4 separate regions of the Homo sapiens genome follow, and regions 1, 2 and 4 are each reported to be linked to region 3. Evidence: microRNA targets listed by miRTarBase, many of them from high-throughput screens and not tested one by one. Region 3 holds a microRNA gene; each other region holds the end of a gene's coding sequence.
Evidence for each region. The annotated mature microRNA hsa-miR-106b-5p reads UAAAGUGCUGACAGUGCAGAU and lies in region 3 at 3,410-3,430, opposite strand. An mRNA with a match to its seed (bases 2 to 7 or 8) in the 3' UTR can be bound and repressed. Matches are read on the target gene's strand: a 7mer-m8 pairs with bases 2 to 8, a 7mer-A1 pairs with bases 2 to 7 and ends in A, and an 8mer does both.

Region 1 (5,072 bases), not on the chromosome of region 3:
TGGCCTTTGAACTCCTAGGTTCAAGTGCCACCGCCCACCTTGGCCTCCCAAAGTGCTGGAATTACAGGCATGAGTCATCATACCCTGCCAAATAATTTATTTTTAACCAAACTTTTAAAGTATTATAACCATTATAGAGTTGCTGTTGTCTTCTGCTTTTAAAAGGTAATGGAGGAGAAACTGGAAATTCCGCCTCTTGAATAATTCCTGTTGCTTCCCATAATCATATAGAAAACTCTAAATTGTGCCTTTAAAGTTTTAGGTTTTTAAAAGAATACATAAATTTACTTCAGAGTATCTTATATTTGGAGGAAATACTCCCTATCCTGTTCAGGCTGGTATGTTCCATCCCTGTCTCAGCCAGCACGTTAACTCCCAAAATTTCCTAAATACAACTTTCTCATAATTCAAAGTCTTTGTTAGGTCTTTTCTAAGAGGCCTTAGCAGACCGTCTTTCCAAACATTTTCATGTATTTACTTCAAAACAGTTGATAATCTATTGAGTTTGTTTTCTGTCTTATCCCTAGTAGATGGTAAATCTTCCTCATTTTGTAATGTTTAATACAGTTCCAAGTTTATTTGGTGGAATGTCAAGATTGTTCCTGTAAATTTGTGGCCAGTGAACAGTGGCACATATTTGTATTTATGCGTGTGTGCTTACACTCTCTGTAGTGCAGCACAATTTTTAGTTAGTAGCAGAAAAACACTAACCCTGATGTACCCAAAACTTCGTGTTTGAGGGAAAAAATTTAGATGGCTCAGAACTATGTCGCACATGTGATATAGCAGGAGAGCAAGCGAGATAGAGCGCGATGTAGATATAGCTTCACTTTAATCCGAGGCATTTGCAAGTTGCTGGACCTAGATGATTCTTTATCCAGAGGACTCCCATAGGGGCTGGATTAATTTCTAAGACTGGGGAATCCCAACTTACTTTGGTAGATAATTCTAGGAGGCCTTTCAAAGTGCTGGGGGTGGGGGTGCTGTTCCTACTTCAAACTAAGCCAGTGTTGCAACTGCACCCTGTTCTTCACAAGTCTTTTTGGATCATCTCAGCTGCAGAAATCCTCTCTTACCTCTCTGATACACTTTTTGTTGTTTTTAAGAGACAGCATCTTGCTGTGTCACCCAGGCTGGAGTGCAATGGTGCAATCATAGCTCATCATAGTGTCGAAATCCCAGGCTCAAACAATCCTCCCACCTCAGCCTCCTGAGTAGCTAGGACTACAGGTGCACACCACCACACCCATCTAATTAAAAAAAAAAATTGAGGACTGGGCCCAGTGGCTCATGCCTGTAATCCTAGCACCTTGGGAGGCCGAGGCGGGCAGACCACTTGAGGTCAGGAGTTCAAGACCAGCCTGGCCAACATGGTGAAACCCTGTCTCTACTAAAAACACAAAAAAAAATTAGCCAGGCATGGTGACACACATCTGTAATCCCAGCTACTCAGGAGGATGAGGCACAAGAATCACTTGAACCCAGGAGGCAGAGGTTGCAGTGAGCCGAGATTGTGCCACTGCACTCCAGCCTGGACAAGAGAGAGAGACTCCGTCTCAATAAATAAATAAAATTTTGTAGCAAGAGTCTATGTTGCCCAGGTTGGTCTCAAACTCCTGGCCTCAAGCAGTCCTCCCACCTTGGCCTCCCGAAGTGCTGAGATTATAGGCATGAGCTACTGTGCCTGGCCTGGTACACTATTTATCCAGCATAAATTGGGGTATTTTAACATAATCTATGCAGCCTATCATCAGTTTTTTCTACACAGGTGATACAGAGACCAGTGGCAGAGTTATGATGAACAGTAGCATCCAAGATTCAGAAGCAGCATATTACTTCAAGCAGCTTACCCAAACCACATATACAAAAGAGCAGTCATGACTCCAGTCAGAGAAGAAAAAAAAAAATCCAGATTTAGATCTAGTCCTACAATACCCTAGACTCCATCTCCATCTCCAGACTCTGCCTCTCCCTCAGTACTCTCAGGTCATGTTCACCTGTTTGTCTTCTAGGATGCCTACAGGACTGCCTGCTTCAGGTTCTTTACATTTGTTCTCTCTGCTGAACACTTATAGCACAAATATCCTTAGAGAGACCTTCCCTGACCACCCAAATACAAATAATCTCCACTCCATTTCCCAAGTCAGTCTCTATCACATTACCTTATGTTATTTCTTCTACTGCATTATCACTGTCTAAAATTCCTATTTACGAATTGTCTCTCTACTAGGATATCATACATGGATGTGATACATGAGGTCAGGAGACTTCATCTGTATTTTTTTCAGATGAATCCCCAGTGTCTAGCATAGTATCTGGATCATAATAAATGATAAATTTGTGAATGGATTGATTCACCTGAATTATTTCAGCACAAACTAAATTGTAGTAATCACACAGTTGGTTTTTAATAATTCTTCATATTTAAGAACAAAAGAACTACCCTCATCTTCAAAGAAATCAGACACAATTTTTTTTTTGTTTTACTAACTCATTTAGGAATTCTTTTCTTTTCTGGAAAATAAGCTTATGCTAGACTAATTTTCAAGGCTGAATATTTTTCTTCAAATGAAATAAATATAAACACATTTCTATATACACAGCATTTTTATTAAATATACTCTGTGAGAAAAAGAACACCCTAAAGTGCCAGATTTCATGTAAATCCAATAACTTAGTAAATACAATGGTGAAAAAAAATCAGAGGGAAACATAATTTAAATAATCTTATAAAAGAGCAAGAACATATCTTAATCTTAAGAAAACAATCATCAAAATATAAAAGGGAAAGAAATCTCTTTTGTAGAAGAATATATTTCAAATTCCACCTGTTGATCATTTCATTTAAAAAATTCTATTCTAAACACATGGGCAGTCTCTCTTACCAATATATATATTTAAATCAATGGTAGAAAGGGAATTTAGACTACTCATTCACACTGAGATAAAGTGACATTTTTGTTGCACAACAGTATTGCTCACTGGCACTAACAGTGGAAGATGGAGAAAGTAGATTTCTGGATTCAATTGTTAGCAGCAGAAATGGACTAATGCTAAAAATTTAGAAAAAAATAGTCCAAGCTGTAGCGATTTCCAAGTAATACAAACATTAACCAAACATTGCCAATTTGTAACGGGCTGTGAAAAACATATGAAAATACTCTACATTGAATACTAGCTTTATGTTACTTTCTATTAAAGATATTCAGTGGGCATATTCTAAATTATATAGGGCTTCTATAGAGACCTAAACTAGCAAGTATAATATGAAGCTAACAGGACAGTGTCAGCATATCTTGGGATGTTCTAGCCAATGTTTGGCTACAAGTATTTGGAAGGGGTCAAATAACTATATGCACATTCAAAATGAATACTTATAAAAAGAAATCTTAATGTATCAGATATCCACAGACTGAAAAGTGTTACACATGTTGTGGGGGGAAAATACTGATGGTTGGCTGAATGACCAATTAAACATACCACTTATGAAAAGCTGGGTGATTCAGGTGCAAAAAAATATATATGCACACATATCTCTCTAATAACATCCTACCAACATATATATGTTGCATGACATAGTTAAAGCTGTGTTACCAAACTAGGATGTGTAAAGTATCAATGTAGTTAAAATTAAATTTTAAGTAAAAAGCTGCTGCTACTTAAACAAGAGAGTGAACTTTGGGGTTTATTCAAGAATTAGTTCTCATATATAAAAAAGTTTGATATTAATAAACAATTCTGGTCACCATAAGGTTTTAGACAGTATAGAAACTTACAGAAAAGTGTTTTTGGACCACTTTAAATAGTTGGAGGAAGCAAATAAAAGGATTAAACTGGATTATGAGTATGAATGCATTTATGATCAAAATTAACACACCAAAAAAATCAAACCACATTTCACAGCAGAACCTGCAAAAACGTTTGTATTCATCTTTTTTGAACCATAAAAAAGAATGATTTAGTCTTGTCTAATACGACTTTTAAGCAACAAAAATAATTTAATCATGAAGTATCAGCTTGATTATGAATATATTCTATTATCTGTATCAGTTGGTAAATTAACTGTGTTACCCAAAAAGGCTGACCAGCTCTAACTAGTATGAACAGGATATTGAATTCATTAATGAATATATAACTATTTTGAGCATACAAATAATCTCTGGTTTTACACCCACTACATTTCAGAATCCTGTAAACTGTGAGGCATACAATATGTTTAATGTGGCAGAAAATCATATGAAATGATTATTTTATTCTGTTCAGTCCTTTTCCCATTAAGCATGCAAACACCGTCATAACCATCTTTGGTTTCACTTCTACGAGGTCATCAGGTAATGCATATATCCGGGCACCGATCTTTCGAGCAACTGAAATGGCGTATCTTGAAGAGACAAGAAAAATATCTTGGTGTTATCCACTGTGTTTTCACTTAACATATTTTAACAAAAGAGTGAAATATTTTGACAAGATTAGTTTTACGAAAAGGTTAAGTTTGTGAGTCTTAAATCTAAGACTCACATATAAGTTATATTTAAAAATATGAATTTTAAGGGCATAGTAACTTTTCCTATAAGGATTTTAGAGAATTAAAGGGCCATGTATTGTAATATAAACCATAAAGGCTTACTTAGCATTGTTCAGCTTGTCCTCATCAGATAAGTTTTCTCTCCTGATCATTTCTTGACGAACTGCATTTGGTGCAATGGCATCTATTAAATCTAGGACAGGTAAACTTGTGCTTATAGATTTATCCTAGAAAATAAAGCATAGATGAACATTCATAAACATCTGACCTTTAATTTTCATTATTTTCAGACTCTTCTGATCATATAACTGAAGGCAATCTACAAATTCTTTGTACTTAACCTAACGTTCAGCTTTTCTGCAACCAGCACACATAAATAAACCCTTTAAAATATACTTTTCCTTGAATCTTTATATATAATATAGAGTTGTCACCATATCTGAATAAGGTTTGTGGACATGATAGCTCCTAAGTATGCTAACTATAGTGTCCATTCTGTAAAAAATACAAAACTTTTGAAAGGGAATAGATGAATTTTTAATTAACA
Region 2 (5,072 bases), not on the chromosome of region 3:
CAAACTATTGGAAAGTAATTTACCAGACGAATGGATAGGGTAATGTATTAAGAGTGAGACAGCAGTTCTGAGCCCCTGGCTGGAGTCTAGTAGAGGAACTGCCAGAGGATCAATATCAACATAGACTTTTAGATATAATTAAAACCTATTATCTAAGTCAGTATTCAAATTTGTCATGCTTAATCTCTTTGAAGACAAGAAATGCTCTTCTGGTTACTCCCAAAGTACCTGTACACATTCTAGATCTGCACTGTTACATAATTATAAATTGGTATTTGCTAGGTAGATAAAACTTAAGACATTCTGAAACATTTCTATTTGTACTTTTTCAATAAACTTGACTATATCAAGATGGGAACTAAACAGGCTTACTGTGTCTTATAAAAAATACTTTGTTGTCTAAAGTAAATGAGATAGTTCAAAATTAATAAAAACAACTAGAACTGTGCTTTTTTTCTTTAAGGTCTAATGCATGTGCACAATAAACTTGTGGATCCACTATTCAGTATGAAAGATGGAAACTGAAGGAGACTGGAGCAAAATTCAGCTTGAATGAACAGAGCACTTTTTACTAAGTAGTAGATGAATTTTCAGCTATGCAATATGACAAAACATGGGGAATTTTGAAGATTGTCATTTTTTCATTCGAGTCTCTATGTTAAACATTCCATATTTTGAATATTTATATCTTGTACTTGGGTTTAAGAGAAGTAGCTGGCTCTCAAGATTGACTGGCTATTTATTATAAAGTACTGAAGTCACATAGCCACCTATAAAACAGCATAGAAATGTCTGCCTGTTTAAAAAGTCATTTTAAAGGTAGAGTGTCCACATCAGGCACCATTTGTGATATGACTCCAGTGGCGTATATTTCATTTTTTAATGACAAGACACTCCAAACCTTTCAGATAACAAACTATCATTGCAGACCTTCACTTTTGGAATGCAATCTTTATATTTTCTGTGCATCACACACATGCTTTTCTGCACGTGGTTGCCTTAGTCATCTTCCTACAGCACCATCTAGACATCAAAAATTGTGCTATATATCATTGGTAAAGGAAATTTGAAGAGATGACAGTGCCTAAAAGTACAGTTTACATCCTTTTGGAAAGTATGTGTAAGTGCATGTTTTTTGTGCACCTTCTTCTATAGCACTTTTTTACAAATATCTTATTTTTATTTAACGACTTGGGTTCATGTCCCTAATATAAGTATCTTGACAATTATGAGCTTTATACCTAGCAAGCCACTTCAGGAAATTCTTTTGGAGAATATTTTCTGATTATTGTTAAACTTAATATACAATTAGCTTTATTCCTTATAAAATGTCTAAAAGAATAATACGAAGTATATATAAAAGGAATTACTGTAAACTACATTGCCATAGCAATTTACATAAAAGTATATTGTTTTTTATCTTTAACTCAAATAAAGCGTGTAATAAATAAGTTATCTAAATTTCCAGAAGTGAACCTGAAGAATACATGCATTCGACTCCCAACAATTATAGTACATGTGAACCTGCATTCATTTTGGGTTTGTTACCATCATGCATTAGGAGAGTTAGGTTAAAAGATGTCTTTGCCTCTGTGGGGAGCAAAAAAATGCTCCTTTTGCTTATTTTGCATTTCATAAGCCCACCTGGTAGAAGAAGCCTTACTTATCTGCTTGTCTATGTGATTAAAATGTAGTTTCTTAAAATATTAAAATAGCAAATAAATTAATGAAATAAAATTGGTAATAGGGTTTTATGGTTAAAAGTGGGGGATGGGGTAAATTATGCTGCTTTAATTCCAGATGATGTTTTAATAGCCTTATAAATGTTTTTTAAATAACTAGTGAGTAACACTCCACTTACACTTCCAGTAATAAGAATCATTTACTACAAACTATGCTGACTACCTTAGAAAGTCATACAGCATCACAGTGAAAAAGCTAAAGGTACCTGTTGTGCTACATGATTCACCAGTAATTTCTCTGCTTTAAAGGTCTAAAAATTCTCCTTTCCATTTTCCTTCCCTTGATGTTAGGGGCTTAGTTGAGGTTCATGTACTCAAGCTCCTCCACAAGCTGAGGAGCGAAAACTCTGGCCATTTTCATTCCTGCTTTCATTCCCTAAATTGAGGAGCTAAGCTGCTGTTAGGCAAAGAACCTAGCTTTTTCAAGAAACCAACCACTGAATCCCAGCTCTGTCAGGGAAATAAAAAAGTCTCAGCTACTTCCCCAAAATTTTTACATAGATTGAATAAGGGAAGCATACATAGCTCAGCACAGTGGTTGTCACATATTAAAGTCAATAAACGGTGCTATTTTAATATTGATAACAGTGTTTAAACATATTTCAGTGTTTGCTAAAATCTTAGTAATATTAAGTCCTCTGAGGAATGCACTTATAAAGCACACAACTCCAAATCACTAAAGTCATCTGACTGGGAAAGCGGGAAGGGGAAAGAAATTAAGCTTACAGAAAATGCTTTTTTGTACTACAACTAAAACTATAACTAAAACTACTTTTTTGTACTACTATAACTAAAGAGTCATAGGTTAAAAAAAGGTAAAATTAGTCTGAATAAAAAAGACTAAGACTGGTAAATTATTAAATAGCAAGCACATAGTACATATTACGTTCCAAGAACCAATTTGTAACTTATCCTTTGGCAGTGATAGAACAGAACACTTTTACAATTTTTTAATTTCAAATACTGTCATTTTCAAAATACTACTGTCATGGTCTTTCAGATTTCATCTGTTTTTATCAGAACCTGGAAGAGGGAGGGAAGATACATAAGATGATAATGTATGTATCTAGGACTATATCACAGGCTACTTCTACACATGATTTTAAGTAAATCTCCACTTAATTTATAATTAAAATGATTTCACAATAACTGTAAGCTCAAAATATCTGAGACAGCTCTCAAGTCAGTTTAGAAAGTTTATTTTCCCAGGGTTAAGGTGTGCCCATGACACAGCCTCAGGAGGTCCTCACCACATGTGCCCAAGGTGGTTGGGGCACAGCTTGGTTTTACACATTTTAGAGAGACATGAGACATCAATCAGTATGTGTAAGGTGTACATTGGTCTTGAAAGGCAGGACAACTTGAAGAGGGGCGGGGGCTTCAAGCATAGGCAGGTAAGAGAGAAAGGGTTGCATTTTTTTGAGTTTCTGATTAGCCTTTCACTGAATATACAATTTACATGTGAGAGGAGAGTAGAGGAATAGTCAGTTATACCTTAATCTGGCTTAGTGAAACATGAAACAGAGAAAGCAATCATTTATGCATTTGTTTCATGTGAAGACTTTGAGTTCTTTGTCCATAAGGAATTCCCTTGTGAGCAAATTTTATCTTTGTGGCTGTCTTATTTAGGAATAAAATGGGAGGCAGGTTTGCCTCAATCAGTTCCCAGCTTGACTTCCCTTTGGCTTAGTGGTTTTGAGATTTTTCTTTCATATAACCTTAGTATAAAATTCATCCTTGATAGTGTTTATCCCTAAAAGACATTTTCTTCATTCAATTCATTCAAGGTAGAAGATAAAAATCAATGGCTAAATGATGTTGTCTTGCTCTAATACAGTCTGCAGTCTGGTTTGTTCGTTGGCTGAATAAACATGGGAGCTGAGAGCTCTGGAGAAATACAGCCATTTACTGGCTGTGAAATCTCAAGTTAACTACTCTAAAATCGCTTCGATTATGAAATTTAGACAATAATTATTAAAATGTCATTATGAGTTCCTGGTAATACCAAACACCTGTCATTTTACACAAATGCGTTTTGAATGTCTGAAAGACAGCTCCTGCCCTTAATTTAGATGTAAACCATTTAGTTTCAAACTAACCACCTGATAAAATCTATAAACATTTTATCATTAACTAGAGCAGATGTCTGTTATTTGATGTCTATGTTATTTGAGTTTACTGTTTAATAAGTGAATTCATATCAATTAATCCTGCTAACAAATTTGACACTTAAGGTGATTCTGAAAATCCTTTAAACTTAAAGTAGATGGAATCTTAAGTATGGGGCCTTTTAGTGTCCGTAAAGAAAAACTGCATGCAACAAAATATAGCAGGTCCTCACTTGTTGAGATTCATGGAAATTGTGACTTTAAATGAAATGACATGGCTGGGCATGGTGGCTCACACCTGTAATCAGCACTTTGGGAGGCCACGGTGGGTGGATCACGAGGTCAGGAGTTCAAGACCAGCCTGGCCAACATGGTGAAACCCCGACTCTACTAAAGATACAAAAAATTAGCCGAGCATGGTGGTGCACGCCTGTAATGGAGGCTGAGGCAGGAGAATCTCTTGAACCCAGGAGGCAGAGGTTGCAGTGAGTCGAGATTGTGCCATTGCACTCCAGCCTGGGCGACAGGGCAAGACTCTGTCTCAAAAAATAAATAAAAATAAAATGAAATGACGCATAAACCAATTTTTTTTCCTCATCGATGTTACAAACCACTTAAGGAAATGACATCATTCAAGAACATTGTGCTACGTGTCATTTTGCTTAAAGTCAGTTTCTAAGAACCTTTCGATGGCATTTAAGGACTTAACTGTAGTTACAATTGAGTGCTTACTATGTGTCTTGCACCTCTGAATATTTAACGTATTACCTCATTTAATCTTCACAACAACAACTTATGTAGGTAGTAGTATAATCTCGATTTTACTGAAGAGGAAACAAAGGTTAATCTGGCCACGGTCACCTTACTAGTGAGTGGTTGGAACAGATATTTGAGAACAGGCAACATGGCTTCAAAATCTAAGCTCTTGCCTACCCACTAACTACTCCCTTTCAACGAAAGACTAGTAGGTTATTTGAACCTGAATACCCTGAAAGTAACAAGCAAATTTTATAATTTTCTTTCTGTTGTCAGCATATTACAAATTGCAATGAAAATTCTTTGTTTTCCCACCAATTATTTAGAAGATTGTGTTTTCAGAACTTTTATAAAAGCATCTTTTGGAACTTCAACGTTGCCAATTTTCCTCAGCTTTTTTTTCCCTTCTGCTTGTCTCTTCAAAAGCTTCATTTTTCGGGTAATATCACCACCATACTGAAAAATA
Region 3 (5,060 bases):
CCTATGACCAAGCACACAGATGTGAGTAATACTCCATGCCTACTCTGTCATGATTGTCGCTATACCTTTTACTGTGTGACACTCCTCTATTGGGGAATGCCAGATGCCACTTACCAGCTGTGACTCTGGCTTAGTCATTTAATCTCCAAACTGTGAAAGGAGGTAATCCCTACTTCATTGGTTTCTTGGGAAGATGAGAGGAAATGTGTAAAAGCAGCTAGCCCAAATGTTGGCATATAGTGTTCAGGTTTCTCCGTCTCCTTCACAGCTTCCTGTCAGCGTTTTTGAGTCTGTCATTGATATAATCAATGGAGAGGTAATACCCTACCCTTCAACCCTCAGATCCTGCTCTTGGCCTCTTTCCTGCTTTTGATTCTCCCTTTGTGGGTTACCTTGCCCTGTAGGCCACAATGCTGTTTGCTGAGCTGACCTACACTCTGGCCACAGAGGAAGCGGAACGCATTGGTGTAGACCACGTAGCCCGAATGACAGCAACAGGCAGTGGAGAGAACTCCACTGGTAATGGAGGGGATTCCTTGGAAGTGGGGTTGGAAGGTGTGGCCACATCCCGTCTCAACCTCCTCCTGTCCTCATCCCCTTGCAGTGGCTGAACACCTGATAGCACAGCACAGCGCCATCAAGATGCTGCACAGCCGCGTCAAGCTCATCTTGGAGTACGTCAAGGCCTCTGAAGCGGGTAGGACAGGGGCTTCCCTGGCATTCTTCCTCTCCCTCCTGGGGAAGTGACAGCATCCAAACTAATGTAGTCTCTTTTTGTGCCTTTAGGAGAGGTCCCCTTTAATCATGAGATCCTGCGGGAGGCCTATGCTCTGTGTCACTGTCTCCCGGTGCTCAGCACAGACAAGTTCAAGACAGATTTTTATGATGTGAGTGTAAAACCCGGATGGGGAGGCGGGGCTTATGCTGTCACTTTCACGTGCAGGACTGGGGACTGTTGTTCCCCGGGCATGCCACGAGGGATCCCGAGGAACTGGTCCTTTCTGTTCCCTCCCAGCAATGCAACGACGTGGGGCTCATGGCCTACCTCGGCACCATCACCAAAACGTGCAACACCATGAACCAGTTTGTGAACAAGTTCAATGTCCTCTACGACCGACAAGGCATCGGCAGGAGAATGCGCGGGCTCTTTTTCTGATGAGGGTACTTGAAGGGCTGATGGACAGGGGTCAGGCAACTATCCCAAAGGGGAGGGCACTACACTTCCTTGAGAGAAACCGCTGTCATTAATAAAAGGGGAGCAGCCCCTGAGCACCCCTGCTGGTGGCTCTGTCCTCTGTTAGGCACCACACTGGTTGGTCAACTTGGATGTTCATCGAGGCTCATTCTGGCCTTGCTCAGAAGCCCTTCTGATGCTCTTCAGTGAGGGAGGCACTACCATTTGAAGTGACCCCATGTCAGTCACATGGACTGGTCTTTAGCAAAGTCCAAGGCTGCCTGCTTCCACCTAAGTGGTCTCTGTTCTACACTTTAATGTCACCCTCTACATCATCTTACCTAGCCCACCCAACCTTATAAACATGATAATTGACTACTTTCCTGAGCTAAATTAACTTGTTTTTCACATACGCAAAAAAGAAGGGATAGTAAGCAGATTTTTATTAGAAAGAAGTCCAAGCCTTGATCCTGTGGGCACTGTGAATTACCAGGAGGGAGAGTTTCTCAATGACCGTTTACTACATATTTTGGAGAGGCAGCTAGGAAGTGGTCTAAAGGTTGGGATTGCTGTATGTGATCACTTGTGCTGATTTTCATCACCCGCTAACCAGAGCTTTAGAGTGGGAGTTGGGAACTAAGTAATGACCTGTCTGCTAGAAAAGGGGAAAAACCAAGAGACCCTGCATTTCATACTGGCGCCATATCCCCAGAGCCTGACTTGCACACAGGCAGTATAAGACCAAATAAGGGAGTCGGGGGGCTCAAAAAGTGGAGCCCCATCTTAAGTATCTCCAAACAGCAGGGACCGCTTAGTCCTTGCCGCATCCCCAGTGTCTATACTGGGGGCCTGGCAGGGAGATGCACTTTACTCAGGTAATTTACTGAGTGGATGAAATAGCATAAAAACGAACAGGAATCTAAAAAACGCACAAAACCCTGTTTTAATGGAAGTCAGGCCCAGGCTAGAAGATGACAATCTACAAACACTTTTATTAGCAAAAGGAGTAAGTGCAGCATGGGAGAAAGAGGGGCTCCTCCTTCCCCTCAAAGGCATCACTGCCCCTTCCCAAGGGGCAGGCCAGCAGGGAACAAGAGGACCCCAGGGTTGCAAGCAGGCTGGAATCAGACAAAAGTGATCCGTGTCCGGGAAGCATTGACCTGCCAGACATTGAGCTCCTCATATTCATCCAGAGCCGCCTGGAACTGGGCGGGTGTGAAGCCACGAGATACACAGCGCTGCTCTGCCTCAGAGAACCGGACACTTCGGCCCCCTGAGACCAGTTCACGGACGGTGGCAAATATCACATCTGCTGGTCTCTGAGTCCTGAAGGAAATGAGTGGGTGTGTAAGGTCAGGATACAAACAGGAATGCTCGACATCAACAGAGAACAATGGTGGCCAGTGTTAGAATTGAGGCCAACCTCAGACACATGGCCACAGAAGACAAAGTGACACAGCTTTGTCCTTCACTAAACCACTCACCTAGCTGTCTGCCCCTTGTCTCCTAGAAGAGAGTCCTTTGACATCTCCATTAGCCTGATGGCTTCATTCACATCTTCTTTCTCCACCACATCCACCATTCTCAGACGTGCCTAAGGGGAAGGTAGGGGGGAAAGATGGGAACGGGAGGAGGGCAGTGGAACGAGGTCAGGGGACACCCTTGTTCTGGCTTTAAGGCTGGGCAGCCCATGGGTCGCCTACTCACAAAACAGGAGTGGAATCCCCCCTCCCCCCAGCATCCGCAGTGTTGGGCCGGCACTGTCAGACCGAGACAAGTGCAATGCCCAGGGCAGCGTCCAGCAATTGCCCAAGTCTCCGCCTCTCAACACTGGCCAGTCCCGGAGTTCAGCTGTCCTGTGAGGGAGACCAGACCCTTTTGAACGCCACTGGGCTCCCCAGCATGACAGATGGAGCTTGGGGAGCTCAGCCAAGAAGACAATTGGCAGAGAGAACGTGTCCCGGGGGCTCGGGAAGTGCTAGCTCAGCAGTAGGTTGGGTAATCACACTACCTGCACGAACAGCACTTTGGAGCCCCCAGGACTGAGGTCCAAGACGGGAGGACAGAAAGGAAGGTCTGTAGCACAGGATCTAGGACACATGGAGTGAAACAGACCCCAACCACCCTCTCAGTGAAGGTTAAGAAGTGGGGAAAAGGCCTTTCCCTCCACGGACGCTGTGCGTGCCCTGCTGGAGCAGCAAGTACCCACAGTGCGGTAGCACGGAGAGGACCACTATCTGCACTGTCAGCACTTTAGCCCCGGCAGGGCTGGAGCGGGAGGTGGGGAGGCGGCAATGAGAGCACGGTAAGGAGCTACCCCTTTAAGGGTCAAAACAGATGGCCCTCCAGCAATTTGGGCACTTACCAGAGCAGTGGAAAGGCGCAGGATAGCCAGCAGGGTCCGGGCAGAAGTATAGGTGGCATCCTTACTAGCCCAAGCCTCTCGCCTCATCTCCACGTATGCTGCTGTGATGTAGTCAGCCAGAGACTCTGGCACCATGGGCTGCTTCTCGCGGCACATGGCTATGTAACGCCTGTGGGGGAAGGTTCATGGGGAAGCAGAAGAGGGAGATGGGGAAGGGAGTGAATATGAGCCCATGTTGTTTTCTGTACCAGGGCTCCCCATTTAACATGGTCCCCTCCAAGAATTTTAAGTGGAAAACACAAATTAGTGGGTGATTATTTGCTTGGCTTGAATATCACTGATGGATTTCACCAAACGTATAGCCCCCACCAGTATCCTCCAAGTTATTTCCTATTTTTTTCGGGAAAATGGCCTTTGTAAGACAAATCCGTCTGTCATTAAGAGAGGATCCAGACCCCTCCTCTGAGCGCATGACATGGCAAAACATATATTTTATTTAAAGAGAACTGTTTACAGAATATTTAAAAGGGAGTAAAAACCGGAAAGAACACTGGAGGCTCATGGGAAAATAGCGATAGAGATTATCATCCAGAATGCCTGGGAGCAGGTGTTTTAAACTTTAAATTTTGGAGTATTTGCATATGCATGAGATAGCTTGGGGATGGGACTCCAGTCTAAACATGAAATTCACCTGTATTTCATATACAACTGATACACATAACCTGAAGGTAATTTTATTAAAAATATTTTTGTGGGCCAGGAGCAGTGGTTCATGCCTGTAATCCCAGCACTTTGGGAGGCAGAGGTGGGCATCCTGGCCAACATGGTGAAACTGCTCTCTACTAAAATACAAAAAATTAACCAGGCGTGGTGGCGTGCGCCTGTAATCCCAGCTACTCAGGAGGCTGAGGCAGGAGAATCGCTTGAATCTGGGAGGCAGAGGTTGCAGAGAGCTGAGATCACTACACTCCAGCCTGGGTGACAGAGCAAGACTTCGTCTCAAAAAAAATAAATAGTGTAGGAAACAAAATTTCCTGTGTCCCTATGATATGAAGTGTGGAATTTTCCACTTAAAAGCTGATCTGAGGCTCTGGACATGTCTGTAGCGGGAAGTGGTGGTGTGAAAAACACACACCCTAAGACTAATAAGCACTTTTTCAGGAGGCTCGCACGGCCCACGCCAACGTTTGCCCACCCGCACCCAGCTCTCCTACCTCATGAGCTTCATGTCCAGAGGTTCAAACTGGGAGGGGGGCTGCCGGCTGTGCTGGTGCACATAGGTGATGTGCTGGGCCAACCTGGACAGAGGGAAGGTTAGAAGGAACACCCTTTTTAGGGCTACGCACCCATGTCCTCTTAGGTGTCCCTCCTTTGGCTCTGCCACTTCCTCACAGTGTAGGAGGGACAAGCTTTCCCGGGAAATCCTCATCAGCATTTCAGCCCCAACCCACCATTTCCCTGAGAACCATGGACCAGCCCCTGCTGCAAAGGGGAGGCTCTGGGGTTTCCAGGAGCGTGGAA
Region 4 (5,072 bases), not on the chromosome of region 3:
TTCATGATTTTACTTTTGCTTATATGCATAATAGGGCATTTGCTACCCTGACATCCACTGTTCATTTCTTTCTTTTTAGCTTCTATTTTTATATTTAACTTTATTTAGTGGGAATGTACTTAGGCATAAAGTAGGAATATTAAACATCCTCTCACCCTCCATTATGTAGTTAGCCAGTTTTATGAAGACCATTTATTAATAAATATTTTTCTGTATTTCATTTGAAATGCCATCTTTATCATATGCTACATTTTAATACAATATATCCTCTATCTCAAAAGTGTATTTTTTTTGTTATTGTTTAAGTTTCTGACATTGGCATTTATCAGTCACTAGAGAAGAGATGTATCATAGTTGGCATGGGCTGTGCATGGGAGAACTTAGATGGCTGAGGTCACTACAGAGGAGGACTGTTATTTGAATTATTGGGACCATGTATAGTCAAAGTTTATTTATTTCTTTATTTTTATTTTTTTGAGATGGAGTCTCACTCTGTCACCTAGGCTGGAGTGTAGTGTCACTATCTGGGCTAACTGCAATCTCTGCCTCCCGGGTTCACGCGAGTCTCCTGCCTCAGCCTCCTGATTAGAGGAGCCCGCCACTGCGCCCGGCTAATTTTGGTATTTTTAGTAGAGACGGGGTTTCACCATGTTGGCCAGGCTGGTCTCGAACTCCTGACCTCAGGTGATCTGCCCGCCTCAGCCTCCCAAAGTGCTGAGATTACAGGTGTGAGCCACTGCGCCCGGCAGTTTAATTTTATTTGGATCTTGTCTTGGGTCTCTTTAGTGTTGCCATAAAGGAATACCTGAGGCTGGGTATTTTATAAACAAAAGAGATTTATTTGGCTCATCGTTCTGTAGGCTGCACAAAAAGCACGGTGCCAGCATCTGCTTCTGGCCAGGGACTCAGGCTGCTTCTACTCATGGTGGAATGTGAAGGGGAGCTGGCATTTGCAGATCATGTGGTGAGAGAGAAAACAAGAAAGAGATGGGGAGATGCTAGGCTTTTTAACAAGCAGTTCTCATGGGAACCAAGAGAACTTATTTACTCCTGGGAGAATGTCACCAAGCCATTCATGGGGGATCTGTTCCCAAATTTCTCCCATCTGGCCCCACCTCCAATATTGGGCATCAAATTTCAACATAAGATTTGGTGGCATGAAAAACAAATCTCATGTCTTTCTTGCATTGCAAAATACAATTATTCCATCCCCCAAAGTCTTAACTTGTTCCAGCATCAACTCAAAAGTCTAAAGTCTCATTTGAGACTCAAGGCAAGTTCCTTACAACTGTGAACCTGTAAAATAAAAAAAGAAGTTATTTACTTCCAAGATACAGTGGTGGTGCAGACATTCCCATTCCAAAAGGGAGGAATAGGCCAGAAGAAAGGGGTAATAGGCCTCATGTGAGTCCCAAACCTATCAGGACAGATATTAAATATTAAAGCTCCAAAATAATCTGCTTTGACTCCATGTCCCGCATCCTAAGAACACTGGTTCAAGGGGTGGGTTCCAGAGCCTCAGGCATCCCCATCCCCATGGCTTTGCTGGGTGCAGCCCACGTAGCTGCTCTCGTGGGTTGGAATCCAATACCTGCAGCTCTTCCAGGCTGAGATTGTAAGCTGTTGGTGGCTCTACCATTCTGAGGTTGGAGAGTGGTGCCCCTGCTCCATCTGCTCCACTAGGCACTTCTCTAGTAGAGGCTCTCAGACCCTGTGGCAGCCTTCTTTCTGGGCACCCAGGCTTTCTAATACATCCTCTCAAATGTAAGTGGAAGCTGCCAAGTCTCCACTACTCTTGCATTCTGCATGCTTGCAGACTTAACACCACATGGAAGTCTCCAAGGCTTACTGGGTACACCTTCCAGAGCAGCAGCCTGAGGCCCTTTGAGCTGGTGCCGCTGGGGTGTGGGGAGCAGTATCACCTGCCCCATCAAAAAGCCATTCTTTCATTCTAAACTTCTTAATCTGTGATGGGAGGGGTGGCAAAGATTTCTGAAATAGCTTTGAGACATTTTTTCCATAGTCTTATTAGCACCTGGCCCTTTTTAGTCATGCTCATCTCTTTAGCAAACTATTGCTGCTGCTTGGTCATACTCTTAGATTCCTCTCCTAAAAACACTCTTCTTTCCTTCTCTAACACAAGGCAAGGCTGCACATTTTCCAATTTTCCTCTGGTCTCTACTGTAAGCAGTTAGAAGTAACCATGCAGCAGCCTGAGCACTTTGCTGGTTAGAAATTTCTTTTCCCAGATACCCTAGGCCATCTCTTAAATGAAGCCTTCCATAAAGCCCTAGAGCATGGACACAATGCAGACAAGTTCTTTGCTACGGTGTAACAAGTGTGACTTTTGCTTCAGTAACTTATAAGTTCATCATTTCCATCTAAGGCTTCCTCAGTATGACCTTTGCTGTCTCTTTTTCTATAAGCATTTTGGTACACAACTACTTAACCAATCTCTAAGAAGTTCTACACTTTCCCTTGTCTTCCCTGTTTTCTCCTGAACCCTCCAAACTCTTCCAACCTCTGCCTATTACCCAGTTCAAAAGCTACTCCCACATTTTCAGGCATCTTTAGAGCAATGCCTCACTCCTGAATACCAATTTTCTTAGTATGTTTAGTGTTGCTATAAAGGAATATTTAAGGCTGGGTAATTTATTAATGAAGAGATTTGGCTCATGTTTCTGCAGGCTGTACAAGAAGCATGGCACCAGCATCTATGGCACCACGCCATTCATGAGCGATCCACGCCATGATCTAAACAACTCCCACCAGGCCCCGCTTCCAATATTGGGGATCAAATTTCAACATGAGGTTGGTGGGGCCAAATAAACCCTAGGCAAACCATAACAGATCTGTAATTAATTCTTAAATTCTTTCCAAAGAGTACACCAAAATGCAGTCTTATTTAAAGAAAATACTGTGTATGTTTTGGATTGGATGCTACCTACCAGAAGATATTGTAGATCTCTTAAAGTTAGATTATAAACTCTTCAAAGCTACAAGAGTAGTATGGCCAGTTCACACAGGGTGAAGAACTGTATCACTCAGCAACAATGGTAAGTTAAAATCCCAGTTAACTATCAGTTATCTGTTAAACAGATGCCCTGAGAGAAATGGCATACATAATTCCTCCCCCACCACCAAAAGCTACTATAACATTAGTGTTAAAAATCACTGAGTTAGGGCTCTACTACTCATTCTAAAAACATGAAGCTTTAAGTTTCCAAGTGAAGGGTTTTTAAGACATTTTGTAATAATCTTTACTTTTAGTCACTTTGCCAGGTTTTTCTTTGAGATTTTATTTTCCTCCAAAATCTATTAATAGGCCTTCTTTACCATTATTCCTATGAGGATATTGCTTGTGACCCTTTTCTTGAGCTGCCCCAGGGTCCTCATGTGTGATCTCCTCACTACACTGAAAACCCAACTTGTTTAACTACAGGTTTGTTGCCAGTGGTCTCTGCCTGAAGGGTGTTAACAGAATTATGGCATCTCCCAAATTAACTGATATTATAGGTCACATAAAAAAGTAATTGCAGTCATTTTATTTTACAGACTAAAAAAAAAAAAAAAAACCCAAGACAGTATACTGTAGTTTGTTAGAAATAATTTTTTATACACTAGGTTATAACTTATTCACATATATAAGCTTATTATCATAATAAGAAAAGGTTTATATATTTTGGGTTTTCTTGTTTTAATAAAATAAATGTGCTAAGGTTCCTTTTTAATACTTTTTGGGAATATGTTTTGATGACAGTAGAAAATATTCAACATTAATTCACTAAACAACCAAAGAAGTAAAATTTTGATACTACCTCCAAAGTTAAAGATAGCAGGCATATCTTAACTACTTCCCAAAAAGACTAGGGAGTTAGGTAAAAGAGTGAAGGCATTTGAGGATTTTTCAAGTTCCAGATGACCAGACAGAAACTGTAAGCCATTGGCTACAGAATGAATGATAGCAAACACTAAGGTTTTTATGCACTAGACAGTGTATGTAAACACTTACTTATCACAGCTCCTGATATGAGCTGTTAACCAATAAATGAGTTCCATTCAGGCATTATAAACTACTAGATCCTTAAGGCAATTCCTATTTTATGGTTTTAGGCAAATACTTATAGATACAGCAATATAAATGTTAGTTTCCTAGATTTGGCAACTGCTAAAAACAGTCTTCAGAACTACATTAGATGCTAATGATAGAACTACAAAGACTAATTTTAAAGTGCATATCAGGAGATAATAAATCCTGCAGAAGCCTTAGCCTCTGTACATATAATCATAGGTTAACAGTTTTACAAATTCACGAACATTAAATTAATATGGAACAATCTAAAAAAAAAACACTCTTTAAGATGCATCCAGTTTCTTATAGGCTTCTTCAATGAAGGTTGACATGCTCTTCATCTGTGATGAATTATGAAGAATATCCAAGTCCTTTAGAAGAGCATTCTGGTTTGGAATTAGCGCCAAAATTTCTTTCTGTGGGAAAGATAGTATTAAATGTAGTTGTTAACATTTTATTATGAGAAATCTCAAATGTATGTTAGAGAGAACAGTAAAATAAACCTTAAGTATCTATCATCCAACTTCAATAATTGTCAACGAATCGCCATTCTTCTTTCAAATCTATCTCTCCCTCTCCCCATCCTGCTCCTTTCACCACTGGTAAATGATAGGATTTGTTTGTTTGTTTGTTTTTGTTTTTTTGAGGTGGAGTTTTGCTCTTCTTGCCCAGGCTGGAGTACAATGGCGCAGTCCTGGCTCACTGCAACCTCCAGCTCCCAGGTTCAAGCAATTCTCCTGCCTCAGCCTCCCGAATAGCTGGGATTACAGGCATGTGCCACCACACCTGGCTAATTTTGTATTTTTAGTAGAGATGGGGTTTCTCCATGTTGGTCAGGCTGTTCTCGAACTCCTGACCTCAGGCAATCCGCCTGCCTTGGCCTCCCAAAGTGCTGGGATTACAGGTGTGAGCCACTGTGCCCAGCCAATAGGAAAATTTCAAATTACTTCTTGAGAAAACATGAAGACTTTCCAATGCTACAAACATTTATACTACAATG

Region 1: miRTarBase lists PLS1 as a target of hsa-miR-106b-5p. Seed matches in the 3' UTR shown: 7mer-A1 at 2,946-2,952 and 8mer at 2,643-2,650.
Region 2: miRTarBase lists GNPDA2 as a target of hsa-miR-106b-5p. Seed matches in the 3' UTR shown: 7mer-m8 at 562-568 and 7mer-m8 at 1,155-1,161.
Region 4: miRTarBase lists CENPQ as a target of hsa-miR-106b-5p. Seed matches in the 3' UTR shown: 8mer at 4,228-4,235.

What each region holds. Positions count from the first base shown.
Region 1 is chr3:142,711,181-142,716,252 of GRCh38, reverse strand. PLS1 (plastin 1) reads right to left here. Exons shown (of 16, transcript NM_001145319.2): 15 at 4,628-4,752; 16 at 2,589-4,381. The coding sequence ends at 4,246. Among named protein-coding and RNA genes, the nearest start is that of TRPC1, 10 kb to the left of the region's middle.
Region 2 is chr4:44,698,534-44,703,605 of GRCh38, reverse strand. It overlaps GNPDA2 (glucosamine-6-phosphate deaminase 2), which reads left to right. Exons shown (of 7, transcript NM_138335.3): 7 at 464-1,811. The coding sequence ends at 525. GUF1 (GTP binding elongation factor GUF1) reads right to left here. Exons shown (of 17, transcript NM_021927.3): 17 at 2,678-5,062. The coding sequence ends at 4,925. Among named protein-coding and RNA genes, the nearest start is that of GUF1, 23 kb to the right of the region's middle.
Region 3 is chr7:100,090,634-100,095,693 of GRCh38, forward strand. MIR106B (microRNA 106b) reads right to left here and starts at 3,441; the gene lies at 3,360-3,441. COPS6 (COP9 signalosome subunit 6) reads left to right here. Exons shown (of 10, transcript NM_006833.5): 5 at 1-21; 6 at 269-316; 7 at 405-519; 8 at 605-697; 9 at 787-887; 10 at 1,016-1,554. The coding sequence ends at 1,156. It overlaps MCM7 (minichromosome maintenance complex component 7), which reads right to left. Exons shown (of 15, transcript NM_005916.5): 12 at 4,754-4,837; 13 at 3,540-3,708; 14 at 2,659-2,768; 15 at 2,095-2,500. The coding sequence ends at 2,299. MIR25 (microRNA 25) reads right to left here and starts at 3,010; the gene lies at 2,927-3,010. It also overlaps MIR93. RefSeq lists enhancers at 793-1,087, 4,868-5,060.
Region 4 is chr6:49,491,560-49,496,631 of GRCh38, reverse strand. CENPQ (centromere protein Q) reads right to left here. Exons shown (of 9, transcript NM_018132.4): 9 at 3,525-4,488. The coding sequence ends at 4,357. Among named protein-coding and RNA genes, the nearest start is that of GLYATL3, 5.8 kb to the left of the region's middle.